Linked DNA regions of Homo sapiens: region 2 is reported to be linked to region 1. Evidence: microRNA targets listed by miRTarBase, many of them from high-throughput screens and not tested one by one. Region 1 holds a microRNA gene; the other region holds the end of a gene's coding sequence.
What was found. The annotated mature microRNA hsa-miR-6823-3p reads UGAGCCUCUCCUUCCCUCCAG and lies in region 1 at 8,182-8,202, shown strand. An mRNA with a match to its seed (bases 2 to 7 or 8) in the 3' UTR can be bound and repressed. Matches are read on the target gene's strand: a 7mer-m8 pairs with bases 2 to 8, a 7mer-A1 pairs with bases 2 to 7 and ends in A, and an 8mer does both.

Region 1 (15,855 bases):
TGTCCCCAGTGCATTTTCAAAGACAAGAGGGAGATACAAATATAGTAAAAGGCAACCATAACGTATTTTAAAATGAATTTCTTAGAGATTGACATACTTAATTTATACTGTAATACTGTAAGATAGACAATGTGCACATCCCATTTTCCTGAAGAGAAAATGTTATTAACATATTATTTTCAAAAAATATGTAAAACTTTAGTTAAAAAAACCAAAATACTAAAAATCAAAAAAAAATTGTAAAAAATGAAATTCTGGAAAGACGATTAAGATACTCCCAGGGCTTAGTGAGTACCCAAAGTACTTGGTTACTAAGTGCCACGCACGGCCGGGCGCGGTGGCTCACGCCTGTAATCCCAGCACTTTGGAAGGCTGAGGAGGGCGTATCACCTGAGGTCAGGAGTTCGAGACCAGCCCGGCCAACGTGGTGAAATCCCGCCTCTACTAAAAATACAAAAATTAGCAGGGCGTGGTGGTGGGCGCCTGTAATCCCAGCTACTTGGGAACCCGAGGCAGGAGCATCCCTTGAACCCGGGAGGCGGAGGTTGCAGTGAGCCAAGATAGCGCCATTGCACTCCAGCCTGGGCAACAGGAGCGAAACTCCGTCTCAAAAAAAAAAAGTCCCACGCATTTGCTCCCAGCAGCCAAAGCAAAGAAAGAGGAACAATATTGAAATGTGTTTTGAGTCTCTATCCATGAGGTAAAAGAGCTTTTCCAGCGTGGTTGAGCATGCTCCTATGGACGGCGGAAGAGTCCCGGGGCTCGGAGCAGTCAAGGGGGACCCCGAGGAGGGGCAGGAGGGCGCAGCGGAGTTGACGGCTGGGACTGCAGGCCTACTGGCCCCTGTCGGCTCTGACCAACCTGGCCGTGCGGGTCACGTAGGCCTCGTCCCACTGCATGAAAACCCCTCCCTCCTGGGGGCCCTGGGCTCCCTAGCAAGGAGGTAGCAGAATTCACGCGTGCCGCTGCTCAGGGATGCAGCGCCAGGGCGGAGCCCGTAGGTGGGGCCTATGCAAATCAGCGCGGGCAGGTTGGGAGAGCTGAGTTTGCGCATCCGGGGCGGGCCTGCACAATCCGGGCCTTGAACTGGGGCGGGACCAGTACAATCCGGAGTTGAGCATGCGCATTCTCGATCCTGGCCTGAAGAACTGGGCCCACTTGTTCCAAAACGGGCGGGTAGGTGAGTTGGGCATGCGTGGTCGGAGGCCGGGCCCCTTTCAGCTGGGGCGGAGCCTACTCACTCTGGGGCGGGACCTGCGGGAAGATAGACATGGGCTGTCGCGGCTTGAGGAGGGGCGGGGCCCAAGGGGCGGGACCTCGGGTGGCCCGAGGTGGCCCGGCTGCTGGGTTGGAAGCGGCGCAGTCCGACTCATCCCGGCCCCGGGATGGCGTCCCCACGGGAATTGACACAGAACCCCCTGAAGAAGATCTGGATGCCATACAGCAATGGGCGGCCCGCTCTGCACGCTTGCCAGCGCGGTGGTGAGGCGGGGTCCTCTGGGAGGAGGTGGGAGGTGCACCGGGATGGGTGGGTAGGGCGGCCTGGGCGGGGGTCTCGCATGGAGAAGGGGCGGGAGACAGATGGGGAACCGGGGACAGGTGAGGTTGCCGTGACTGGGGAGGCTGCTGGGGACAGGTGAGGCGGTCGTGACAGTGGTGGGCCAGAGACAGGTGTGGCAGAGCAGGGGGCGGGGACAGGTGTGTGGGGGCATATCGGCTTGGCGGTGGCTAGGTCTGGCCACCATCACCTCGGGGAGGGCTCTGGCCCCCTCGCTTCCCTCTCCAATCCCCATCGCCCCCAGTCTGGGGAGGACCCTGTGGGCACCCCAGGCCCTTCCCTCTCTCCTGGCCAAGGAGTGTGGGCCGGGTTGTTGGACTGGAACTGAGCTGTGTGGCCCTAGGTGAATTACTTGGCCTCTCTGAGCCCAGAACTTTCAAAGGTGGGCTAGTTTTCCAACAGGAGGAAGGGTGCCTCTTGGCCTTAAAGCTGAGCTTGGGCAGGAACTTCAGCAGAGATGTGCTCAGGATAGAGACAGAAAAGTATGCCGTGTGGGCCTGTGTCTGTGTCCCGGGACATGTAAGTATCCACCTGGGGTCATGGGTGTACAGTAAAACTGGAGAGTGAAACAGCTAGGAGAATGCTGAAATTCATGGAATTGTTAAGGGGCTCACCTCTCCTAGGGTCCCAGGTGTTTAAACCGCTTCCTTGAGTTTCTGCCTGTCCTTAAATGAGCTGGCAGTTTTTTTTTTTTTTAAGAGATGAGTCTCGCTCAGTGGCCCAAGCTGGAGCAAGTGCAGTGGCGCGATCATAGTTCACTGCAGCCACGACCTTCTGGGCTCAAGCAATCCTCCCACCTCAACCTCCCGATTAGCTGGGATTATAGGTGCGCCACCACACCCAGCTTTTTTTTTTCTTTTTTCTTTTTTTTTGTAGAGACAGGGTCTTGCTATGTTGTCTGGGCTGGTCTCCAACTCATGGCTTCAAGTGGATCCTCTGGCCTCGGCCTTCCGAAGTGTTGAGATTACAGGCGTGGGTCCTGGCCTGCAACTTTTTTATTACCAGGAAAAGAAAGATTTGTTTTAGGAGTAACTGAAACATTGTAATGAATTTGCAGCTTGTCCAGCACCTCAGAGAACATCTAGTTTAACAGACAGTGAAATGGAGATCAGGAGATTGAGTGACATGCCTGGGTCTCCCTGTGATCCTGCCTCTGCTTATGTATGATAAGCAAGGGGAGAGTTCTTTGTGCTCATCCTGCTGCAGCAGCCTGGAGCCATGGCTTTGATCATGATATGAGTCCTGGGGGAAGGGTGTGTGTATTTCTGGCCACACTGTGAGTCCTGGCAGGGGAAGGCCATGTTTCTGACCAGACCAAGTCGTGGTAACTCATGGCTTTGATTGTGATGTAGGTCCTGGTGGGGCTGTGCTGTCTATAATGCACACTCAGTCCTGAGGGCTATGGCCACCCCTCCTTTGAGACTCTTCTGGAGGCGGGGAGGCTGAGCCAGTCTGTGTTATTAGGGCTGTGTGGTCCTGACTTAGGGGGGTGGCTGCTATTACTACATAGGGGAAAGGAGTGAGGACCTGGACTTTTTTTTTTTTTTTTTTTTTGAGACGGAGTTTCACTCTTGTTGCCCAGGTTGTAGTGCAGTGGTCCTATCTCAGCTCACTGCAACCTCTACCTCCTGGGTTCAAGCAATTCTCCTGCCTCAGCCTTCCAAGTTGCTGGGATTACAGGTATGCGCCACCATGGCCGGCTAATTTTGTATTTTTAGTAGGATGGAGTTTCACCATGTTGGCCAGGCTCGTCTTGAATTCGTTATCTCTAATGATCTGCCCCCCTTGGCCTCCCAAAGTGTTGGGATTACAGGCATGAGCTGCCATGCCTAGCCAAGTCTGTGAGCCTTTAAGGAGTAGGTCCTCAATAAGCGGAGGCAGGGTATTCTGTCATCACTACCATTCTTTCTTTGCTTCTCACTACGTCTGAGTCAGGGATTGATGCATCAGCTCCAAGCCAACCCCCGTTACAGGTGAGAGGAAGCTGAGGCCCAATGGGAAGGTCTCATAGCTCCTGAGGCAGGGCTTGTGTTTCTCCAGGCTCTAAGTGTGGAACTGAAATGTGGCTCTGGCCTGAGCTGAGGGGCTCGTGCCATCACGGTGTCTCAGGGTGTTGGGGTAGGCTGGGTTCTAGGTCCGCACTTTTTCCTGGAGGAGGAGGTAGCACCTGAGAGGCCAAAGATGAGACCTGCAGGTTGTTTGGGGATTTGGGCCTCAGGGTTCACAGCAGGGAGTGGGTAAGCAGTGAATGAACATGGAACCCGCCCATGCAGCACCTCCAGCTCCCAGTGCCTGCATTTGGGCAACACTTTACCCTTTGCATAGTAGACTTGTAGGTTGAGTGACTGCAAGGACAGTCTGGACCCGGAGGGTGTGGGTGGGGATGGAAGCGGATTTGGTCCCAGGGCTTTGTGGGGAGGAAGAAGCAGGACCCACTGCTGGTCTGTGCTTTGTACTGGGTTTTCTCTGGAGTCTAGTCCCCAGCTCCTCAGGGCACTAGGGGCTGGTGGACTGAGGGATGTACTGCACCTCCTCCACTCCCACAGGCACGCCCCCGCTTGATAAAATTTAAAGCCACACCTGAGGGCTTGGGAGGCTTTTACCTTTCCCATCATTGGCCTCCGAGCTCAGACCTGGAGGAACTCTGAGGGCAGGTGGGGCAAGAGCTGACTCAAGAAGGACTGCAGAAAGGACGGTGTTTGATGGCTTTTCTCAGCTGAAAGGTGGCAAGACTCTTCCTGGGTAAGGACATGACTGGTGTGTGCACAGGGCAACAGGAGAGATGACTTTCAGTCCCCTCTGAAAAGGGCCTCCATGGCACGTTACTTTATTTTAAAGAGCTCTTCCTTCCCTAGCCTGGCCTAAGGAGGTGAGAGCAGTTGCAGTTCAGGAGTCAATTCTGGCACCCCCTCCAGGGACTTGTGGCTGCTCCTTGGGTAGAAGTAATGGAACATAGACACTGCCCATTGCCAGGCACGTCTCAGGCCCCTTGGGCCCCTTCGCTCCTAGAGCTCATGGGGCCTGCAGCGAATTTACAGGAAAGGAACCCATGAGGGAAGTTGGGCTGACATGTCTTCACATTTCCTTCCGCACATGCTCAATGTTATAAACAGTGTGTTCTTTTTTTTTTTTGGAGACAGTCTTGCTTTGTCCCCCAGGCTGGAGTGCAGTGGCACAATCTTGGCTCACTGCAACCTCTGCCTCCTGTGTTAAAGCAATTCTCCTGTCTCAGCTTCCCGAGTAGCTGGGATTACAGGTGTGCACCACCACACCCGGCTAATTTTTGTATTTTTAGTAGAGACAGGGTTTCACCATGTTGGCCAAGCTGGTCTCGAACTCCTGACCTCAGGTGATCTGCCTGCCTCGGCCTCCCAAAGTGCTGGGATTACAGGCATGTGCCATCACGCCCAGCTATAAACAGTGTATTCTACCATCCTGTTTGCTCAGTGTCAGGGTCCTGTGGGCTCAGAGCCACAGGTGCAGCCGTGCACCCAGCCCGCTTAGTCCACGTGCTCTGTTTTGAGAGCTGCAATGTGTTCCCTCCTTGTTGTGCCTCAGTTGGCAATTTCTTATGGCTGGAATTTCCCAGTGTTTTGCTATGGTAAGCAGAGCTGTTGTGATACACTTGAACTTTGGTTTTCTTTTGGGTCATTTCCTTGGGAGCTTATCTTGGGGAGCAGAGGAGATAGGTAATTTATTGCCTTGTTTTGCACCCAGGCCTGATTTGCTGCCCTGCCTGCCCACCTTGTGCTGCGCATGTGGGTGGAAGGCGGGAAGGGAAATGCCACCAAATGCCATGGGAGGAGGCTGGAGCTGTCTCTGGGAAAATAGGAGATGTGGAGAGGGGGTGCAGATCCCCAGTCCTGAGGTTTTGGGAGTCCCTGAAGGAGCAGTTGGGGGGTGGCCCCATCAGCGGGAGCAGGGTAGATGCAGGATTTCCTCCTGCTTAGCAGCTGTCGCACTGCCCTTGGTTGCTTGAGAGCCCGGCCACCTGGCCGGGAACTATGCAAACAATGCACAATGCGGGCCTCAGCTGTCCACCGGCCCTGAGGAGGCAAGGCCTTGCCTAACTTGTTTTCCTCTCACCTTAGCTAATACTGAGAGTTCTCTGCAAGTTTCTCCACTCTCACTCAGTCAGCCTGTTTCATGGGGTCTCCTCCTTCCCGCCCCTGAGGCTCACCATTTGGGTCACCTTTAAACAAGGGGAATGCACAGGAGTGATGGAGCCCCCACTGGCAAGCAAGGCCCTTTGTTTCTCTGCAGGGCCTGCCTGGGGCCAGGCCACCGCCTCCATGCCCTGAGTCCCAAGGGCAGTCGGTGCCGAGGTACACCTATGGCTTTAGCTCAGTATCCGCCAGGGTAGGACAGAGGGCACAGCTTCCCAGAAGTGCCCAGGCTCTTGGATAGCACTAGGCTTCTCTGAGGGATGACTGCCCCATTTTACAGCTGGGGACACCGAGGCTCAGAGTTCCCAATGAGTGTCAGACTCAAGATGGCAACCCAGGCCTGACTCCTGATCCCCTGCGGAAGTGCTTCTGGGGCCTCTGTGCTCTGAGGGAAACAACTTGTTGGTGGGGACAGTCTGTCTAGGCAACCAGGTGAAGGCACTTGCAGAACCAAGAAGAGGGGCAGTGACAGGTCCCCACATCTGTTCATCTGCCTGTCTGCTATGGTTTTACCTGACCCAGGTCCTAAGGATGAGGAAAAGGAAGCTTCCTGAGGCTTCTGACGTGAGACCGCGTTTGATGGCACTGGAAACTGAGCTGAGGGCTGGGCTCACGCCTGTAATCCCAGCACTTTGGGAGGACGAGGCAGGCAGATCACCTGAGGTCAGGAATTCGAGACCAGCCTGACTAACATAATGAAATCCTGTCTCTACTGAAAATACAAAAATTAGCCAGGTGTGGTGGCATGTGCTTGTAATCCCAGCTACTTGAGAGGCTGAGGCACGAGAATTGCTTGAGCCCGGGAGGCAGAGGTTGCAGTGAGCTGGGTACCAGTGTCCTCCAGCACTCCAGCCTGGGCAAGGGCGACAGAGCGAGACTCCCTCTCAAAAAAAAAAAAAAAAAAAAAAAAAAAAAAAAAGAAGGCTGGAGGTGATGGCTCACACCTGTAATCCCAGCACTTTGGGAGGCCCAGGCAGTCGGATCACCTGAGGTCAGGAGTTTTGAGACCAGCCTGACCAACATGCCGAAACCCCGTCTCTACTGAAAATACAAAAATTAGCCAGGTGTGGTGGCAGGTGTCTGTAATCCTAGATACTTGGGAGGCTGAGGCAGGAGAATCGCTTGAACCTGGGAGGCAGAGGTTGCAGTGAGCCAAGATCGCACCACTGCCCTCCAGCCTGGGCAACAGAGTGAGACTCCGTCTCAAAAAAAAAAAAAAAAAAAGAAAAGTGAGCTAGGTCCCATAAGATGAAGCTGGCAGTTCTGCTGCCTTGGTATCTGTTCTAGCCAGCTGGGAATATAGGGGGCTGTATTCAGATCCTTCCGTGCCTCTAGCCTGGCATCTTCTCTGGCTGGCACACTGACCTGTGGCACATGGATGGTGGTGGGTGGGCTATCAGAGGGACTGTCCTTGTGGGCATCAGTCTGGGTCTCTGGTCTCAACCCCTTGTGGTCCTTACCCTGAGAGACTTCTAGATGCCTCCCTCCCTGATCCTGCCCACAGTTCCTGAGCACCAGCGCTGTGCCAGGCCCCAGGGCCCTAAAGGGCTCAGATACCACAGGGCTTCTTCTGCTGTAAGTGATCAGTCTAGAGAGAAGAGTGTCATTAGTGAGGTGACCAGGATTGAGGGTGAGGGGTGTTCCCGGTGGCCATGGAGATGCCTTGGGGAAAGGACTCATTGAGGAAGTGACTTTTTAGCTGGGCTTTGTATGATGAAAAGAAGTTCACCACAGGGAGGGCATGCAGTGGGGCTATGTGTTCTGGGAGCACTGAGTGATGGATGGGGTGGGAGAGATGTAAAAAGGTTAGGGTATGGATTCCTGGATGACAGAGGCAGGGTGTTGATTACCCTGCTGGGTTTTGGTCCTGTCCTTCATGCGGTGGGGACCCCCCTAGCCATGTTTAGCCAGTGGCAAGTTCGGTTGACTTTATGCCTGGTGGTGCACATCAGGATGAAAAGGGCTGGAGAGATCCCACTGTGTCTGCCAGAGCCCAGGCGGGCCTGGGGAAGGGGGACATGCCAACGGTGGCTTGAAACCAGCATCTGGGGCCACTCCAGGAGCTGTGTGGGGATGCTAGGAAGCCAAGAAGATACGTCTGATGCCAGTCCCATGCCCTGAGGCTGAGAGACCACAGGCTGAGAGGGAGGGGTGCGCTGGGAGGGTCCCAGCCCTCATCTGACACTGTGCTGCTTGCCTTTTAGTGTGCATGACCAACTGCCCAACTCTCATTGTCATGGTGGGCCTGCCCGCCAGGGGCAAGACCTACATCTCCAAGAAGCTGACTCGATACCTGAACTGGATTGGTGTGCCCACTCGGGGTGAGGCTTGGCCCCAGCTGTCTAAGGGGAGCTTTGTGGGGCATGACGAAGAGAATAGAGAAGGCCTATTCTCTATTATTTGGCCTGGGGTTGGGTCAAGGTCAGGGTTGGTAGGGGTTGCTGTTGCTGTGAAAGCTGAGCCTCTCCTTCCCTCCAGAGTTCAATGTTGGCCAGTATCGCCGGGACGTGGTCAAGACCTACAAATCTTTTGAATTTTTTCTCCCCGACAATGAAGAGGGCCTGAAAATCAGGAAGTAAGTATATGTGTTGGGTGTGGGGGGAGAGGTTGCTGGGGGACCCAGTGTGGAGAAAGCTAACACATTACTGACCATTTACTGAGAAGCCCCTGGAGTGGAGCTGCTGGTGAATGACTGAGCTACTCCTGAGCCCTGGCCTTGCCCAGCCCTGATGGCTGTGTGACAGGGCTGTGTGACAAGGCTGGTCTCTGGATCTCTCAGGATGTGGTGGGGGTGGGAGGTGATGGGTTTGGGGATGAGAGGAGAGGGTGTGTTGTGTGGCCTCCTGGTGGCTGGGCCATTCCTGCCCTGGGGTTAAGGAACCCTTGGGAAGGACAGAGCTTCAGGGAGGTAAGAGGGGCTCAGCCCATGCAGGTCGTTGGAGCTGCTGCCTGGAGGTCACGCTCGCTCACCCCAGCGCCCCGTGGGGATGGCTGCTGCTGGGGAAGGGAACCTGAGTGAGTGCAGGCATACAGGCCTTAGGGATGGAGCTGGGGGTGGGGGGCTTCCTCCCTTGCCCCAGGATAAGCTCTCTCCTGTGTATTTGGAGCATGTTCTTGGTGTGTGATTGCTGGTGCGATTGGCTTTGCATTGACATCTCCTAGATGCTGCTGGGTGAGTCGTTCACACTTCTGCTGTTACTCTGGAGATAGAAATATGTATATGCTACCGCCCCACCCTCAACAACTTTCAGACTTGAACTGAGTCCTTTCTTCAAGGAACTGAGCACCAGCTGGTGGTCTGAGCAGCCATGCTGTGCTTTTCTCAGGAGGTGTTAGCTGTGGTCTTGAGAAGCCCCTTATCAACCTAGGGTGGCAGAGACTTGCTCTTGGCCCAGCCATCAGGATAGGGCAGTGAGCAGAGGTTGACCCAGCTCTAGTGACTTCCCCAAATCAAGCCCAGTGGCTACCAGGCTGCCACTGGGGTCCACACTAGGCTACCCGTTCCTTCTCTGGCCACCAGGGGGCAGGAACTCCCTGCTGTGGGGCTTGGACCTTCAGACTGGAGACTGCCTTTGTTCTTGCATCGGTGTGGCTGGGCCAGGCTGTGGCACCAAGAAGGGAAGGGGAGCCTGATATTCAGGTTTCTATGGCCAAATTGTGGGTAAAAATCAAGGCTGGACCCTCTGGTTATATTGAGCCAGATAAAAAGTAGAGGACTAATGTCTGAACCTACCGTGTGCTGGGTTCTTGATGCCCATTGTCACCCCCTACTTTTACAGATGAGGAAACTGAGGCTCAGACAGGCCAGGAGTCTCGCACAAAATAGCAAGTTTACATCAGCGCCCAGACTTGAATCTAAGCCCATCCACCGCTAAAAAGTGTCCATCATTCCAATATTCCTCAATAGGTAGGTCAAGGAACATCAAATGCAAATTTTATTTATTTATTTTAAAAATTATTATTATTTGTGTGTGTGTGTGATGGAGTCTCACTCTGTCGCCCAGGCTGGAATGTAGTAGTGCAATCTCAGCTGACTGCAACCTCCGCCTCCCAGGTTCAAGCAATTCTTCTGCCTCAGCCAACAACCCCAAGCTGTGGACGCTGATAGCCTACTGTCTGATCTTCCCAGCAGCTTCTGTGGTGGGCGGTGCCTCACTTTTCCAGATGCTGGGACCAAGGCCAGAAAGTGATGGGGGTGCCTTGGGTCACTCAGGGTTTGAATTTGAAGTCCGTCCTGCCTGAATCCATAGTGTTTGTGGGGAGAGTCTGCCAGCTGTTCCACTCTGGCTGTCCCCCTAAGGTAGGGATATTTGGGATTAATTCAAATGAAGAGACCTAGACTCAGAGAGGTTGGGAAGCTAGTCCAAGGTCACCCTGCAACAGAAGCTGGGGACAGGCTCATTGCTGCCTTTCTGCAGGCATACCCTCTGGCTGCCCTAGAAACCCTCTCTGCTGTATCCGAATCCTGGCTCTGGCTGGGCCACAGGGCCATCTCCTATTAATCAGCCCAAAATTTCCCAATTAGCAAAATAAAAGGACCAGAGTTTTTAAAATGGAAAACCTGGGAAGAGACAGCTGCATTTCCCAGAGGCCCAGTTACTCACACAGTGTTGAGGTCCATCTCTGACACTGGACACAGCAGAAGATCTAGAAAAGTGCGTGCAAGGCCGGGTGCAGTGATTCACGCCTGTAATCCCAGCACTTTGGGAGGCCGAGGTGGGTGGATCACTTGAGGCCAGGAGTTTGAGACCAGCCTGGCCAACATGGCAAAACCCCATCTCTACTAAAATTACAAAAATTAGCCACATGTGGTGGGGCGCCTGTCATCCCAGCTACATCAGGAGGCTGAGGCATGAGAATTGCTTGAATCTGGGAGGTGGAGGTTGCAATGAGCCAAGATTGCGTCTCTGTGCTCCAGCCTGGGTGACAGAGTAAGACTCTGTCTCAAAAACAAAGTGTATGCAAGGGCATAAGTACACATATTCTAAACAGGCACACTCATACTCCTGCACACAGTCCTATACCACACACAAGCCCCCTATGCACACACACACGTGGGCACATGCATGCATGTGCATACCTCATAGGCACACATCCGGACATGCGTATACCATATGCACAGGGTACATACACATGCACACCCCCTGTGTACACAGTCACGTTATACATAAGGGTATATGTACATGTGTGGGCACCTACACATATAAATACTTGGGCTCACTTAAGCCACACGTAATTCAAGGGCCATTACACACACGAAGGCGCACATGTTCTCACCCTGTATATACACACACACCTGAGCACGCTCATACATGGTGTGTAGGGGGTCCCCAAGACTGCCCTCAGGTTCAGTGATTTGCTAGGGTGACTCCCAGGACTTGGCATATAGCTGGACTCATGGCTAAGACTTAGTACGGCAAAATGACACAAAGCAAAATCAGAAAAAGGGGCCTGGGGTGAAGTCCAGAGGAAACCAGGAGCGAGCATCAAGATTTTCTCCTCATGGAGTCACACAGGACGCACTTAATTCCTCCTGCATTGAACATTGACAACATGTGTAAAATGTTGTCTGCCAGGGAAATTCATCAGAGACTCAACGACCAAGGTTTTTACTGGGGGCTGGTCATATAGGCACCCTGTGCCTAGCATGTACCAAAATTCCAGACTCCCAGAAGGAAAGCAGATAATCAACATAAACCATGTTGTTTGTATAAACAGTCTATGCACAGTGAGCTCCTCTTATAATTCAGGGAAAGTTTCATATCACTAGAGGGAACTGTTTACCATCAAGTTCCCCAACCCTGGCCAAGGGCCAACCTCACAAGCAGGCCTTTCGAAGGGGACCATTCTCATACCTGCTGTGTTAACTCTTCCACACACATGCAGTCACCCACTACACATGAAGGTGGGTGCACACACATATGCATACCTCAGAGTCATGTGTGTGGGCACATATACGCTTGTGTTCACCTGTATGCACATGTGGATCTGTGCACATGTACACACCAAGCATGATCGCATATGTTCTCACACAGTCACATGGCACATGAAGACATGTATACACACACACCATGTGTACACACATGGTCACCCCCACATGCATACTCTGTATATGCTTGGACACACACACACAAACTTATACACATGGGTGCATGCACACACATCCTGTGTGCACACATGTGGGCACACTCACTCATACCTGTGCCCATTTAGTCACATACCGCACACAGGGGTTGTGCACGCTCGTGTGTGTGCACCTGTGCTCATACATGGGCCCAGGGAATACTCACACAGGTACACTCACAGATTTACATGTACACACTTGGGCACAACACACACATAACCACCCACACGTGTGGATTCATGCACATATGCATCTCTTCACCCCATTTGCACTCTCTTATACACACACACACACACGCACACACACAGGCTCCCAGGCTCTTCCCTCAGCATCTCCACCGGGGCCCTGAGGTCTCTCCTGCATGGTGGTGTCATGGCCAGAGCAGCCCACAAAAGAGATCTTAGCCCAGAACGTGGGGCTCTAAGGAGAAATGTCCCTACCAATGCCAGTTACCTGGACTCTCAGAATTCAGATGTTTTTGGCATGAGGAAGAAAGCACTTTGAGGCTTTAACTGGAAGACCCATTGGGGCACAGAAATGGTTACAAGGGCTGGACATAGTAGCTCACATGTGTAATCCCAATATTTTGGGAGGCTGTGGCGGGAGGATCACTGGAAGCTAGGAGTTAAAGACCAGCCTGGGGAACATAGTGAGACCCTGTCTCTTAAAAAAAAAAAACAAAAGAAAGAAAAGAAATGTCACAAGGAGCCGTAAGAGTAGAGCTCTTTTCAGTGCCCTGGACTCAGCTCTACCACTGATTTCTTTGTGGTTCTCAGATCAGCTTCTGCCGCTGTATTTCAGGCATATCGTCCTGATGAGAGCCCTTTGACTTTGACATGCTGGGAGTTTAAACACAAAATCCAAAGATCAACAAAGCCAGGAGGGCTGGGCACTGTGGCTCAAGCTTGCAATCCCAGCACTTGGGAGGCTGAGGAGGGTGGATCACCTGAGGTCAGGAGTTCAAGACCCACATGGCCAACATGGTGAAATCCCATCTCTACTAAAAATACAAAAAATTAGCTGGGTGTGGTGGCACATGCCTGTAATCCCAGCTACTCGAGAGGCTGAGGCAGGATAATTGCTTGAACCCAGAAGGTGGAGGTTGTAGTGAGCTGAGATCATGCCACTGCACTCCAGCCTGGGCAACAAAGTGAGACTCTGTCTCAAAAAACAAAAAACACAAAGCTAGGAGATCTAGCTTTACCCTTACATAGAAAAAGGGAAGATAATAGATAAAAAGGTAATTTATCTATCTCCAGACCTCATAGGATAAATTGATGAGAATAATCCTGGCTGGGTGCAGTGGCTCGCGCCTGTAATCCCAGCACTTTGGGAGGCCAAAGTGGGCAGATCACTTGAAGTCAGGAGTTCGAGACCAGCCTGGCTAACATGGCGAAACCCCATCTCTACTGAAAATACAAAAATTAGCCAGATGTGGTGGCACGTGCCCATAATCCCTGGTACTTGGGTGGCTGAGGCACAAGAATTGCTTGAACCTGGGAGGCAGAGGTTACAGTGAGCTGAGATTGCACCACTGCACTCCAGCCTGGGCAACAGAGAGTAAGACTCTTGTCTAAAAAAAAAAACAAACCTTCTGTGTCAATCCACTTTGCAGCAATAAATGAAAAAGCTGAGAACTTAAAAAGATTGTGTAAGCCTGGGCAACATAGCAAGACCCCATCTCTAAAAGAAATTTAAAGATTAGCCAGGTGTGGTGGCATATCCCTGTAGTTTCAGCTACTCTGGAGGCTGAGGCAGGAAGATTGCTTGAGCCCAGGAGTTTGGGCTGCAGTGAGGCATGATCCCACTGCTGCACTCCAGCCTAGGTGGCAGAGCGAGACCTTATCTCAAAAAAAAAAAAAAAAAAAAAAAAGATCTGAAAACTGTATAGTCAGTGTTTGGTCATAGGTGGGGGATTCCCATTCTGGAGGGTATGGATATGATAGAAGAAGAGATGCAGAACCCTCCCTCAGAAGGGGTGGTTTGGGGAACTCTCTTTCAGGAAAGAAAGTTGAGCACTAAGCCTAACACTGCCCGAGGGCCAGCCCTAGTGTTCCTCCCATCCCCACCACCAACTCCTGACATGCACACAAGAAAACGGCTGCTTTTAAAAATGCTTATTTTGAAATATAAAAATTAGCTGGGCGTGGTGGTGCACGCCTGTAATCCCAGCTACTCAGTAGGCTGAGGCACGAAAATTGCTTGAAACTGGGTAGAAGTTGCAGTGAGCCGAGATCGCACCACTGCACTCCAGCCTGGGTGACAGAGCGAGACTCAGTCTCAAAAAAAATAAATAAATAAATAAAAGGCGGGCGGGGGGGGGCTTATTTTGATAATCAGGGAAAATATATGACAATTAGAAATCATGAATGTGGCACAATGACAGCATGGATTTGTGCACAATGAGAGGATGAGGGAAAATACAGAAACGTAGTGCTTAAAAAATGTTCCTAATAGCCAAGAGTGTATAGCCTTCCACCTCACAGGAGCAGAGTTAGCCAAACACTGAACATTATCCTAAGGAAAGAGAAGGGAAACTTTGAAAAGAGAGCAAGAGACCTCGGGGCTGTTCCTTCTCCTGTCATGTCTCCTCCTGTTGTGTGTCCCTGGCCACCCTCCTGGAGCCAGGGTCGGGTGCTGGGCTGACCCTGTGTTTTCTCTCCTGAAGGCAGTGTGCCCTGGCAGCCCTCCGTGACGTCCGGCGGTTCCTTAGTGAGGAGGGGGGACATGTGGCGGTGAGTGTGACACCCTGGTGACAGCTGGGAGTGACACATGGGAGCCCATCCACATCTGTGCCTTTGCTCGTCAGGCATCTGGAGGGGAAGGCAGGGTGTGTGTGCCCCAGCTGCTCTGGGTGCCAGCCCTTGGGAGGAAGTCTGCAACAGCTATGCAGGAGGAAGCCAGAGACTGGATATGGGCCAGGAGTTTCCCTCTGGGCATGTGGTGGCCGCATTTGACCCTGCAGGACTTCCCTCTGGATGCTTGTATTCTTGGCCACCCCAGAAGTTACAGGTATCAGGTTGCCTAAGTCTTTAGTAAATGTGATTTCTCCTGGTGTGGGGAGAATCCTGCCCAGCATTACTGGTTGTTGTAGGAACCCACTGAATCCTGGATTAAGGGGATTCCACCTGTGTGTTGGCCCTTCTAGTCAGACGGAAGAGCAGAACAGGGCTAAACTGGGGTGTCTGTGGGAAACGGCTCTACCCCAGCCTTATATAGTCAAACACAGGGGCTGTTCTTTCCCTTCCTTCTTCTTCCTGGAGTCATGCCTTCTGGAGTTCTCTGTCCCCAGCTACAATCTGTGCCTGTAGCACAGCCATTGCCCTTCTCTCTCCTGGGTTGAATGTTCTGCCTGTGGATCCCACATCATCCTCTCTTTGACTTACTGATTTGTTTCATTGAAGCACATCCTCCAGTAACTTCCTGAGAAAGGTGCTTGGGGAGGTAAATTGTGTGAGACCTTGCACATCTGAAATGTCTTTTTTTAATCCTCACATTTGATGGTTGGGTATAGAATTTCTAGGTGGAAAGTGCTTTTCCCTTAGAACTTCTACAACATCACTCTGATGTCTTATGGCTTCTAGTGTGGCTGTGGAGAAGTCTCATGTCATTCTGATTTGCTGATCTTCCTAAAAGCTTCATCTCTTAGAGGGAGCTGAGAGTTTCTCATGCCCCTTCCGCTTGGGAGGCCTTTAGGGTCTTCAAGGTGATGTGGTTTGTGGTGGGTCTTCTCTCCACCATACATGGTCCTAGGGGGCCCCTTTTCATCATAACACTCTTGTTCTCCAGGTCAGGGAAATTGTCATGTATTATTTCTTTGACAAATCACCTCTGCCCCTTTCTGGCAACTCACTCCATCCCTACTCCCATTTTCTGAGCTGCTTTTTCTAGAACTTCTGGTGGCTACATGCTAGCTTGATTCTGAGATTCTGATTTTATCTTTTTTCTCTTAATTTTCTTTCTTTCTTTTTTTTTTTTTTTGAGATGGAGTCTCGCTCTGTCACCCA
Region 2 (13,114 bases), not on the chromosome of region 1:
TCATAGCTCTATTCTTCTCCTTCTTTTTTTTTTTTTTTTTTGAGACAGAGTCTTGCTCTGTCGCCCAGGCTGGAGTGCAGTGGCACAATCTTGGCTCACTGCAACCTCGACCTCCCAGGTTCAAGCGATTCTTCTCCCTCAGCCTCCCAAATAGCTGGGATTATAGGCACCCACAGCCATACCCAGCTAATTTTTGTCTTTTTAGTAGAGATGGGGTTTCACCATGTTGGCCAGGCTGGTCTTAAACTCCTGACCTCAAGTGATCTGCCGTCCTTGGTCTCCCAAAGTGCTGGGATTACAGGTGTGAGCCACCTTGCCTGGCCACAGCCCTTCTCTTCTAAGTAGCCCCACTCATTGCTCAAGTCACGTTCAGTGTCTCCACCTCCAGGGAAGTGCTTCCAGGTCCAAACACCTTTCATCTGAGTTCCCAGCACCCGTACAGATCTCTGTCATTACACATATGCCACATTTCAGAGTGCTTTGCTTATGCATCTTTCTTCCCTGCACGGAGGGAGAGGGACAGGATGAGACAGGAGAGGAACACAGTACCCTGCAGGGGGAGGCAGGAGGGACCGCCCTGAGGCTTGGGTCTGGTCCCCTCCAGCCAGTCTACACTTGTGGAGCGTGGTCTGGGTGCCAGGCTCAGTGCTGGGTTCTGTGGGGACAGATGATTATGACACAAAACTCATGCCACAATTTGTCAATGAGCCCACGTTTGATCATGTAGGACTGATTCTCAGGCCCCAGTCGGGGAGTGAAGCTGGGGAGGCGTGAGCCGGCCTCTGAGGGCCCTGGGTTTGGGGTCTGAGAGAGGAGGCAATGGGGAGGCGTCCAGTGACAGGACGTGGGGCGGTGGGGTGGTGTGGCGGGGAGCCTGAGCCATAGGCAGCTGTGTGGAGGAAGCAGAAAAGACGGCGGCTGGGGAGGAAGGTGCCGGGGACAGGCCACCGGCTGCCCAGGACACCGAGAAGGGGCATTGTGGAGTGGACTGACGGGCAACAGGGGTCACTGAAGGGTCCGCAGAGGCGTAAGGAGGAGGCAAAGGCAACACCACTGGCTGCTTTAGAGGAGGGAGGAGTGTTTCCTTCAGGTCCAGGAGTTGTGTTTTGCTCTCCCAGGCCCTTTGCTACCCCTCAAAAGATGAAGCTAACACACATCCGGGACTGCCTCCCCTCACAGCCTTGGGGAGTCCGGGGGGTAGTCACTGACTTCCCCATGTAGTGATCTCTGATCAGGATCTGCTGGATCCAGGATGCCCCTGCCAGCCTTCTCAGGAAGAGAGGCCCACACGGATACCCTGCTTCCTGTCTCCACAGGGAGAACTTCCTGGTCCTAGATGTCTTCTTTGAGGCCCTGACCTCTGAAGCCATGGAGCAGCGAGCAGCCTATGGCCTGTCAGCCCTGCTGGGTGAGACTGGTGTCCCTGCCCCCAGCTTGTGTGGGGGTGGATCGGCCCGGCCGCTCCCTCTGACACTGCTCTCCTGCTTCCCAGGAGACCTCGGGGGACAGATGGGCCTGTTCATTGGGGCCAGCATCCTCACGTTGCTGGAGATCCTCGACTACATCTATGAGGCAAGGGCCCTGGAGAAGGCAGGGTGGGAGTGGGGGCCGTGGGCAAAGCAGAAGGGGGCAGTGCGGGGTGCCTGGTGGAGCTGGCCTGGCTGGAAAGTCAGGTTCAGGGTTCTCTGCCAGGGTCCCCTGACTGGCTGGCAGGCCTGAGGGCTCAGAGTCAGGAGAAGGGGATGGGTGAGGAGGAGGAGGGTGTCCTACTGGGAGTTTGCTGTGGCAGTAAGTCCTGTGGGCAGCTGGGCATGGTAAGGCTCACGCTTCTCCTCAACCAAATTTCCTGAGCCCACTGCTGTCCCCGACCCTGAACCCCAAGGTGTCCTGGGATCGACTGAAGCGGGTATGGAGGCGTCCCAAGACCCCCCTGCGGACCTCCACTGGGGGCATCTCCACTTTGGGGCTTCAGGAGCTGAAGGAACAGGTGAGGACAAGCTCTAAATGCCTGCAGCATGCAGCCACACCTCCCCAGGACTGAATACATCCATTGTTTCTGAACCAGCCTGTGGAGGGGGCCCTGGAGCCTCTGCCCGAGGTGACAAGGAAAGGCTGGCGGTGTGAGCCCTGGGGGCACCACTTGAGCTCTCCCGGTCCCACTCTCTCTTTTCTTTCTCCTGCAGAGTCCCTGCCCGAGCCGGGGCCGAGTGGAGGGTGGGGGGGTCAGCAGTCTGCTCCCCAATCACCACCACCCCCACGGTCCCCCAGGAGGTCTCTTTGAAGATTTTGCTTGCTAGGACGGTGCTGTGACTGAAAGGACCCAGGAGTCTGGGACCCCTCCTGGGATCCCCAGCACATTCTCCTGCTCCTGGGAGAGGCCTGGGGGCGGTGCTCACTGGGAGGGCCAGGACTCAGTTCCTGCTCTCATCCTCCCCTGCCCTGATGTCAGCTGCTTTGCACAAAGGTCCTTCTTGTCCACACCCCTTATCCCCAGGCTGGTGCCCCGGGAGGGCTGGAGACCAGGCCATGGGCCCTCACGGAGAGGAAGGGAAGGAAGGAGAGGGAGGGGGAGGATAGAGCCCATCCCAGCCGGGGAGGGGGAGCCCTCTGTACATTTGTAAATATTTAGGGAAAGCCGGGTGGGGGGAGGGGATACAGATGTAGAAGGTGGGTAGGGCTACAGGGGTGGGTGATTTAGGGACAGCCAGGGTCCCAGCCCCAATGTCAGCAGGATAGGGAGAGCCCCAGGACTCAGGAGTGCTGGGCTGGTCCTACTTCCTGCCCCTCTCCAGGCCCAGCTCCCCTCTTGGCAGGGGGAGAGGATGGCCCAGCAGGCCTGGCCCAGCTCCCAGTTCCCCCTGCACCAGCCCCACCCCTAGAGTCCCTTCTATAGGGAGGGGGCAGGAGACCTTCCAGACTTCGGCTGAGCTTGGAGGGTGGGAAGGGAGCCTTCTCAGTCCTCTCTCCCTCCAGTCTGATTTTATAAAGTGCTGACGAGATTGGGAATAAAGAGGCATAAAGAATTCTCTGTGTGTATGTGTGACCAAGCACGCACTGGGGGCCGGGGTGAGGCTGGGCACATGCATGACTTGGTCCCGGGTGAAAGGAAAGGCAGGCCCCAGCAGGGGCAGGGGAGCCTGTGGTGCTCAGCCAGTCCTCCCTCCCCCACGCCTGCCTACCTTTTCAAAACCTCTGAATCACAAGTCCACACTTGGCCAGTTTATTAAAGGCAGGGAGCTTCGGCAGGGTCCAAAAGGGAGAAGTTGGGAGATGCCCCCTCCTCAGCTCCCTCCTTCCCCAACAACTCTTCTACAGCCCAGCCCCCAGGGCCCAGAGGCAGGGCTGGCGTCAGGCAGACTGTACTGCATAAATACGTGGAGGCCACAGCCCGAATCAGCAGCGTCAGGGGGCAGGGAAACTGGGTTTGGGATGAGAAGTGGGTGGCTCTGGGGGCACGTCCCCCAGTGCTTGTCCAGAGCCCAGGGACCCACAGAGCCAGAGAGGGGACCAGTGGGCCAGCTTGGGGTCTGGCTACGGCCAGCCCTGCCCAGCGAGGCTGGCAGGTGGCTCTGGTTTTGGGGGAGAAGTGGGGTGGGGTGTGGCCATGCCACGGCCCACGGGGACAGGGTGGGGTCAGGTGCTGTTGCCCTGCTCCTGTTCAAAGAGTAGCATGGCCAGCTGGGTTCGGGAGCCGAGGCCCTCAAGCACGCTCTGGAGGCAGCGGTGGTACAGGTCCTCACTGAGCCTCGCGCTGCACGTCTGGGCCCGGTAGCGCTGCAGCAGCGCCGGCTCCACCGCCCGCAGCACATGCAGACTGGAGAAGTGGAGGAACAGCTCGTACACATCCAGGCTCTCCAGCAGCTCCTCTTCTTGTTCTGAGGCTGCCGCCAGGCGCCCACGGGCTGCCACATAGTCGGAGTTGTAGAAGCAGGCCTCGCTGGCTGCCTGGCGATCAAAGCGGCCAGTGTCACGGCCCAGCTCTGGGGGCCCAGGCCCTTGTGGTGGGGCCACAGCTGGGTGGAAGGCTTGGAAATGCATGGGAAAGAAGGCCTGCCAGCCGGAGATGGCATGCATGCGGCAGCGGTTCAGGAAGTCAGGCGTGAGCACCGTGTCTGGCCCGGCCAGCAGGAACAGTGTGTCCAGCGGGTGCTTCTTGGAGAGTAGATCCATGAGGCGCAGTGGTGAGGGTGCGGCTGTCTGCACACTGAGCCATGGCACCCGGGCACCGGGGAAACGCCGCTCCAGCTCTGCCACGTGGGCCTTGACAGGTGCGAAGACATCTGCATGGGCCACGCGCTGGGCCTGGCGCGGCTCATACAGTAGCAGCAGGGTCAGGGCTGCCGCAGCATCACCAGGCTCCAGTGCTGCAGTGGCAAAGGCCTCCAAGAAGCCAGGGGCCAGGTCACGCTCAGCCGCAGCTAGAGGCAGCAGCACAGTGAGACGTGAGGCCTCAGTGACATAGGGCACAGGCAAGATCTCCACGCGGCTCAGCGGCCGGAGCAGCTGCACTCGGCGAGTGAGGGGCCGGCGGCCTCCCTGGGGGGTCAGTGCCTCCAGCTGCAAGTCCAGCGTGTATTCCATACCCCGGGCCGGATCAAAGCGTCGGTAGCCATTCACCAGCTGCTGCTTCTGGAGCCGCAAGGCCGGGTGGTAGCGGCGGTTCAGCTCCTCTAGAGCTGTCCCCAGAACATCGGCCACATCAGCCCGGTCAGCCCCACGCAGTGGGCAGCGGGGTGAGCCATCGGCGCAGGAGAAAGCGTGCTGCTCCGTGAAGTAGTCCCAGCGCAGCACCTCAAAGCGGGAGGCCGGGCGGGATGGTGCTGGAATACCCACGGGCCAAGCAGCTGCCTGGTCCCCATCAACGGCCAGATGGCTGGTATTCTGGATCTCCCACTGGATCAGAGAAACAGGCCATCAGCAAGGGACAGATTACAGGGAGCAGCACACAGCTGGGGGACTGGGTAGGCAGTAGGTGCCACTCAGGATGGGCCCCTCATCCCCTGCCAACCTCTGCCCATACCTATCATTTCCCCAGCATAGACAGCCAAGAGGCTCATCAGAGAATGTAGAAACAGGCAGGGGCTGGGAAGTAGTTTTGTTCTGTGATTCTAGTGCTAACTTGTCATTTCTCTGGGCTCTCTGTGACTTCTCAGATCCTGTCCCCGTCACTCTGCCACCCCCAGACCTAGACCATACCTGTAACTCCTGGATCTCCTGGTACGTGCGTTCCAGTTCAGCTCGGGCGAAAGCTTTGTGCAGCTGGTACATGTGCACAGGGTCACGCACAGGGTGGGCTGTCAGGGCACTTCGGAAATGAGGGTCCCCCTCCTGCACTGGCTCCCCAGGGCTCAGCTCCAGATGGCTATAGTGCACCCCCTGGGGAGAGGAAGGGAAGGGATCTGTGATGAGCTGGCATTGTCTTCCGTTGTCTCATAGTAAGTGTCTCATCTCCTCAGCCTATGACCTGTTGTGGACTTGCAGTCTGAGGGTTTAAGTCTACCTTGACCAGTTGTGAGTCTGTGTGACCTTCAGCATGCCTCCGCTAGCTCATCTGCGAAATGGGCATGCGTCCTGTCTCAGAGCTGTCCAAGGGCTAAAATAATAACTAACATCAAATGCCTATTATGTACAAGGCTCCCTGATTTTTTCTAATCCTTGTAACAACCCCGAGCAATAATTATTTCCATTGGCACAAAGGAAGATACTGAAGCCCAGGATATTTAGTAATTTACTGGGGGTCACAGAGATAGAAAATAAATGTCCGAATTGGCATGGAAAAGCAGACCTGTATCTCCAACATCCCTTTGCCTCTCAGAGGGATTTGAACATGACAAGGAGGTATCAGTGGGATAGCTTATCATCCCACCTCGTGGTCACCAGTGCAGCCCACCCCGGTGGCATCGAGAATGCAGCGACCCAGCCACTCGTCAGGGCGCGCACTGACGATGTCGTTGCGGCAGCCTTCCAGGTGGGGGCGCAGTTGTTGCAGCAGCATGCGCGACAGCAGCACCCCAAAGCCTCCGTGGCAGTAGCGGCCGGGGGTGGGCTCTCCGCCGATGAAGTCCTGGGGCCGGCCCAGGTACAGGTGGGCGGCGGAGGCCAGGCTGAGGTGGCCAGTTAGGCGTGCCAGGCCGTGCGCCTCGGTGTAGGTGGTGTCAGGCACCAGGAAGAACCAGTCAAAGTCGTCGCCGTGCTGCTCCAGCAGGTGGCGCAGCGCCAGGTGCAGGTGTCCAATGGGTCGCTCCTCGCCTAGCGTCACCACTGCCATGCCAGGTGGGGCCCGGCGGCCCCGTGCGCCCGTCAGGAACACCACACGCTCCAGCCGGTGCCCCAGCGTGCGGTTCACGGCCACGCCCAGCGTGGGCAGCGTGGTCTGAGAGGTCAGCACCGCCACCAGCAGCCTCTGCCTGATGCCCAGCTCCGTGCTGATGTAGCGGGTCCTAGGGGAGGAGATGGCACAAGCTTATCAAAAGGACAACGGGGCGGGGGGTGGGGGGGAGGTGGTCAGCACAGACCCTGGCAGGTCACGTCTTCTCTGTATCTGTTCTCTCACCTATGAATAGGTTAAAAATAAACCCTCTCTCCCAGGGGTCATGAGGATTTAAACGAAATGGTCTTAAACAGGTAGTGCTTTGCATTTGGGAGATGGCAATACCCACCCAGATAGGAGAGAGATATTGTGGGTCTGACTCCGGGGTTCGCTACTTAGTAGTTATGTCCTTGAGCATGTTATTTAACCTGAGCCATCTGTAAAATGGGACTGATTATATCTGTTTAAAGCACCCAGCCAAACGCTGGACACACCATGTATCTACTCATTTCTATATAAATATGCCATTATGCCACAAATGCCTCACATAAATGACATAAAGGAACGTTTGGCATAGGGGTGTACTGAGTGTTTTTGCGGGGAGGGGCAAACTGCACTCAGGGGCTCTAGGAACTTACCTTTTGGTAAGGCAGAAGGTAAATTGCAGAACCAGCATTTGAACCCAATGTTACTTAGAAGTTATTTCAACTCATCAGCAGAGACATTAATGAGATAGGTACATTCCTCCCTCCCCCATCTCACCCTGAGGTGGCCCTTGTAACCCACTCAGGAACAAGAGATCCAGGTAAATCCTAGTTCTCTCCTTTCTCTTCCCCTGTCTCTATACACTCACCCTATATATAAGTCATTTCTCTAACACCAGCAGCCCAGCCAGGGAGCTAGTAGGATCTCTGGGGCGCCATCGGGTCGAGCCGGTTTAGGACACAGTCCAGTAAGTTCAGCCCAGGCCGGGATAGGGCCCAGAGAAAGTCTCGGACTGGCCCCACGGCTCTCGGGAAGGCAGGGCCATCGGAAGTTATCGGGGCCCAAAGACTTCCTGGCTCGCCAGCCCCTTCCTTCCGGAGCCTGACCCGGGCCCGGGCGACCTCCCCGCGCGCTTCCCGGCCGCTGCCCAGGGGGTAGAGCGGGCGCAGCCGATCACTACCTGACGGCCTTTTTGGCGGCCTGGCCGGGCTGTGCAGGGTGGTAGGGCAAGACGCGCGGCTCCCAATTCTCCCCGGCGCCTTCGCCGGCCCCGGGCTTCTCGCGCTCCGCTCCGGGCTGCACCGAGTTGGGCCGGCGCGCCGCGTTGGTGTTGCCGCGCGGCGGCAGCTCAGAGTCTCCAGGTTGGGGCGGGCCTGGGCCGCACGGCTCCTCCACCCAGGTGACGCTGAGCAGGCTCAGGGTGAAGCCCAGGGAGATGCCCACGGCCACGGGCCCTGCGGGCCGCAGCACCGACAGCAGCAGCGATGCCCGCATGGCGCCCGGACCGCGGGTCCCCGGCCCCGGCGAACCCCCAGAGCAGCCAGAGGAGTCTCCGAGGGGGCGGGACCGGGGAGGGGGCGGATCCGGAGGGCTCGGGCCCCGCGGGCGGGCCCGCTCCCTCCCCGCAGAGCAGAGCCAGCGGCCCGAGCCGAATCCCCGGAGCCGCGCCTCGATTCCCCTCCAGCAGCTGCTCTGGGCTGCGCAGGGTTCTTGCGCTCGGCACTGGAGCCTCAGCCGCGGCCGCAGCTGTCCGACGTGTCACTGCAAGGGCCCCGCCCCCGGGGTGGGGTCTCGGGCTCTCGCTACCGGAGAGGGAGGAGAAGGGGGAGGTTAAAGGGGAAGGACCCCCGGAAGTGCCCCCTCCTCAGTGCGGGAGAGGGAGACGCCGGGGGCGGAGTCCCCTGCCTCCCGCGGCGTGGTTGGTGCGTCCCATGTGACGTCAGAAGCAGCCCGCCCCTGCCTGGATGGTGCGCCCTGAGTGACGTCAGGAGCAGAGGCCGGAGCTGTCCATCAGCACCAAAGGCCGCGGGCGGGCTCAGGGCATGGGGCCGCGGTTCTGGGGCGGCCCGAGCCCCGGCTCCTGCGCCTTCCCCTTCCTCAGGCCCAGCCCGAGTTCCCGGACGCCGCGGGACTGGAGTGCCAGCCGGTGTTGGACGTGGAGCGGCGCCGCCACCGCGCCGACACCATTCTCTCCGGCCCAGCAGCCCCCTTCCTCGCACGACGGACTTTCCCTGGACCCCAGTCAGTTGGAGCCTCTGGCGCCCCGCAACCCCGGCCCCTCGGGCCTCTGCACAGCCTCTTTCACTCAGAAGCTCAGGTCGCCTCCAGCCCAGGTAAATCTTGGACAATCCCATATTGAGCCGCCCACAGATGAATCTCTTGGCTGCCTCCTTCTCACTGGCAGCACGCTCCCTTCATCCCCCCGACTCCCGTCCCTCTTTTAACTTCATCCCAGCCTCCACTAGCCAGGCACTTTTGTTTCCCTTTGTCTTTGCTCCCCACTCCAGAGATGCTTCCGGAGCTGCACAAATGTGGATACTATTCCTTTGTCCACTGTCCTTGCTGAGTTCTCCCAATCCCTCTCCCACCCCCATCCTGGTGGGGACCCAGGACTCCTCCGTGACCCCAACTTTCCCTCTGTCAGGTTAACTTGGGAGGGTGACTCCCTTCTATTCCCAGCACTATGCCGGGGACTGTGGCAACACTGCGGTTCCAGCTGCTGCCCCCTGAGCCAGATGATGCCTTCTGGGGTGCACCTTGTGAACAGCCCCTGGAGCGCAGGTACCAGGCACTGCCGGCCCTCGTCTGCATCATGTGCTGTTTGTTTGGAGTCGTCTACTGCTTCTTCGGTGAGATCCCCATCTCATCCCTCACCTGGGCTCCCCAGTGTTTCCCCGAGTTCTTTTTCTGGGCCCCCAAGTCTTCTCTGAATCCCTCTACCATCATGAATAATTCTTCCTTTTCTTTCATCCCACACATTTATAGATTGTCTAGACTCTAGATTATAGGAAAAACAGGTTTTTGGATTAGGCACACCTGAGTGTGAATTTACTTAGCTTTGCAGTTACTAATTGTGATGTCTTGGGCACATTAATCTGTCTGAGCCTCAGTTTTCTCATCTGAACAATGATCACAATATTTGTCTCATGTAGTGTTGTAAGAATTAGTAAGCATTCAATAAATTGTAGCTATTGTGAGGATGTGTTTGGCTAACTGTGCTAGGTAGCCACTGAAAACACTTAGCAGGGTTATTACACATGGTCCCTTACCACAGGGCATATTGTCTGACAGGGAGGAGACTCCCTGGAGCATTTACACCTGGGATACATATTAGAGTGGGCTGGATGGTGGTCACACACATCCATCCAGCCTACAAGGCAGGCTCCGGTAATCAGAGCTGCTGTGAATACTTGTACAGGACGGGTACTAAATAAGGGAGCTCAGCTGAGTGGGCAAGTGGGGGCTAAAGTCCAGCTCATGCTCTGACAAACTCTGGGCCTTGGCACAAAGCTGCTTTGCCTAGAGAAAGGCACACCTTTTTCTAATATGCATAAAGGTGCCAGATGGGCTAGTGGCCCAGTATAATGGGAGTAAGTGACCAGTGGCTTTGCAGCAAGAGTTACAGAACTTCAGAGAGGAGAGTGAGCTCTATGGGCTGGGGGCCCAAAGAAAGCCTCCAGGAGAATTGTAGGTGAGTGGGACCAGTGGGGGCAAATGAGTCTTGGGGGCTGGGGTTCCAGGTTGAGCAGAGGTAGTGCAAGACTTGTGTTCTGCAGCCTCCCCCTGCAATGGGTGGGTAGACAGGGTTGGGAGCCAGATGGTCCCTCCCATTCCTCCCCCAAACTCTGGGCTGAACAACTGAAGAGTAGGCAGGAGGAAGTGCCCCCCGCAAGGGTTCAGGACACGTTCTGGGCCTCCAAGGATTCTGTATCACCTCACCCCCTCCATATCTGTACCCACTCCCTCTGCATGTTGCTCAATGCAGCCTCATATTCCCTCTCCTGGGCTTCCTGACATCCTACCCCTCTTGGATGTCACTACGCCCAGGCTCATGGACTCTGAGCCCTTGTCCACGCCCTACTCCTCTCTCTGATCACGAGCCTCCTGGACTCTCATACTTCCCCCCACTCCTGGAAGTGACTCTCCTCTGTTATCTTTCTTTTTGGCTCTCTCTGACTCCTTGACCCCCATCTCTGATTTCCATCTTTCCAACTATTCAGAATCTCCACTTCCCTCACCCTTTCAAGTATCTCTAATGGGCCTAATGGCCCTATAACCTCCTTATTTCTGAAACTCCACAAACACTGTTTCCTTCTCTTTGATTCTGTGTGACCTCATGTAAGCCTTAGTGACCTCCACCTCCTCTCACCTCCAGTTATGTCATTACCTTCCATCCCTCTGACCCCCTCTATTACTCCTAGTCTTGATCCCTGGTTACTCCTCTCTAATTCCCATAACCTCATTATCTGATCACCCCTCCCCATACTGTGATCCCAGTAATTCCTTGTTTTGGTCTCAGTGTTCCTCTCTCTTGGAAATCGTTTTATACTCTCGATGATTCTATTTCTGTCAATCTCCCTAACCTACAAATACCTCATTTTCTGGGACAACTCCCCAGTAATGCTGCTACTCTGTCCTCTTTGTAACCTTTCAGTGGTGCCATTATCTCTGAAGCCCTGTGACCCCCAAAGACTCATCTTTCTGAACCTGTGTGACCCTCACCTCTCAAGTTTCTTTTTTTTTTTTTTTTTGAGACAAGAGTCTCGCTCTGTCACCCAGGCTGGAATGCAATGGTGCGATCTTGGTGCACTGCAACCTCTGCCTCCTGGGTTCAAGCGATTCTCCTGCCTCAGCCTCCTGAGTAGCTGGGATTACAGGTGCGTGCCACCATGCCCGGCTAATTTTTCGTATTTTTAGTAGAGACGGGGTTTCACCGCGTTGGTCAGGCTGGTCTCAAACTCCTGACCTCATGATTCACCCGCCTTGGCCTCCCATAGTGCTGCCACCACGCCCGGCCCTCGAGTTTATTATGATTTCCAAATACCTCATCTCTGTGAGCAATCCCTTCTCAAAGACCCCAATGACTCTTTTTCTGATCCCCTTGGGACCCCAGTGACTTCTCTCTCTGACTCCTATGATCCCAAAGACACCAATGCACGAATTCACTCTTGACTCAAAAGATTTATCCTAACTCCTGTGATCCTCAAATACATCAACCCTCATGATCTCAATGGTTATGTTTGCCTTCCCATTGACCACCAACAGCCATATCTCTCTAACCTCCCCTGACCTCAATGGCCCCATCACTGATGCCGTCATGACTCCAGTGACCCTCAATTCTCTGATCTTAGTGTCTTTGTCTCTGGTTCCCCTGGGATCCCATGTCCTTGACCCCTTGGACCTGCTCCCTCCAGCCTGGTGCCCTCATCTTGGCCCCTCACTAGCCCCTGTTCCCCTCCAGGTTACCGCTGCTTCAAGGCAGTGCTCTTTCTCACTGGGTTGCTGTTTGGCTCGGTGGTCATCTTCCTCCTCTGCTACCGAGAGCGGGTGCTAGAGACACAGCTGAGTGCTGGGGCGAGCGCGGGCATCGCTCTGGGCATCGGGCTGCTCTGCGGGCTGGTGGCCATGCTAGTGCGCAGCGTGGGCCTCTTCCTGGTGGGGCTGCTGCTCGGCCTGCTGCTCGCAGCTGCTGCCCTGCTGGGCTCCGCACCCTACTACCAGCCAGGCTCCGTGTGGGGTCCACTGGGGCTGTTGCTGGGGGGCGGCCTGCTCTGTGCCCTGCTCACTCTGCGCTGGCCCCGCCCACTCACCACCCTGGCCACCGCCGTGACTGGTGCTGCGCTGATCGCCACTGCCGCTGACTACTTCGCCGAGCTGCTACTGCTGGGGCGCTACGTGGTGGAGCGACTCCGGGCTGCTCCTGTGCCCCCACTCTGCTGGCGAAGCTGGGCCCTGCTGGCACTCTGGCCCCTGCTCAGCCTGATGGGCGTTCTGGTGCAGTGGAGGGTGACAGCTGAGGGGGACTCCCACACGGAAGGTAAGGGGGCACAGGCCAAGGTGGACATGAGAGGAGTGGGTGGCCAGGGATGGGTTGGGGGCCAAGTGACTGGGGAGTGGGGGACAGCAGCAGAAGGCCTCGATGGCGGTAGAGAGCTGACTTGCTCAGGGTCTGGGAGGATAGCACCCAGGTGCCATCATTCATTCCACAACAACATATGGAGTGCTGGCTCCGCACCAACCCCATTCCAGGCACCAGGGATACAGCAGAGATAACACAGACAAGGTTCCTGTCCTTATGGATTCAAGGCAGGCAGGAGACAGATAACAGAGATGCAAACAAACATGATTCCAGTTGTGTAGAGTGATATGACAGAGACATTGTGCAGGATAATGTGAAAGAATGACCTATGGAAGCTATTAGAGTTAGGGTGGTCAGGGAAGGCTGCTTGAAGGAGGTGATATGTAAGCAGGCACTTGAAGGCTAAGGGGCCAGCCATGCAAAGAGCTAGAGAAGAGGGAACAGCAAGGGCGAGGGCCCTGAGAAGGAATGAGCTCAGCTTGCTTGAGGAAGTGGGGCAGGAGTATGGGAGGTGAGGTGTGGGAGCCAGAGTGATTGCGTGGACCCTCTGGGTCATAAGAAGCACTCCACATTTTATTAGAAGGGCAATAAGACTTTAAACCACTGGAGAGTTTAAAGTAGGGGAGGATAGAATCTAATTTAGCTTTTGGGATGCTCATTCTGCTGCCGAGTGTAGAAAGCATTGGAGGGAGCAAGTGTAGGGGGAAACCAGTGAAGAAGCAGCTGTGATTGTCCAGTGG

Region 2: the mRNA of ASIC4 is a reported target of hsa-miR-6823-3p. The part of its 3' UTR that is shown has no 7-base or 8-base seed match.

The regions. Positions count from the first base shown.
Region 1 is chr3:48,542,308-48,558,162 of GRCh38, reverse strand. It overlaps MIR6823 (microRNA 6823), which reads left to right and starts at 8,142; the gene lies at 8,142-8,202. PFKFB4 (6-phosphofructo-2-kinase/fructose-2,6-biphosphatase 4) reads left to right here and starts at 1,360. Exons shown (of 14, transcript NM_004567.4): 1 at 1,360-1,482; 2 at 7,929-8,045; 3 at 8,203-8,299; 4 at 14,517-14,583. The coding sequence starts at 1,386. RefSeq lists enhancers at 648-737, 5,080-5,741, 5,742-6,405, 6,406-7,067, 7,068-7,731 and 1 more.
Region 2 is chr2:219,535,750-219,548,863 of GRCh38, forward strand. ASIC4 (acid sensing ion channel subunit family member 4) reads left to right here. Exons shown (of 10, transcript NM_018674.6): 7 at 1,317-1,408; 8 at 1,493-1,572; 9 at 1,883-1,987; 10 at 2,184-3,023. The coding sequence ends at 2,297. CHPF (chondroitin polymerizing factor) reads right to left here and starts at 8,060. Exons shown (of 4, transcript NM_024536.6): 1 at 7,476-8,060; 2 at 5,867-6,440; 3 at 5,197-5,376; 4 at 3,205-4,893. The coding sequence starts at 7,789. The coding sequence ends at 3,634. TMEM198 (transmembrane protein 198) reads left to right here and starts at 8,279. Exons shown (of 5, transcript NM_001005209.3): 1 at 8,279-8,628; 2 at 8,940-9,144; 3 at 11,757-12,332. The coding sequence starts at 8,979. It also overlaps a transcript of OBSL1 not described here. RefSeq lists enhancers at 1,915-2,469, 2,470-3,025 and silencers at 7,492-7,581, 7,592-8,301, 8,342-8,481.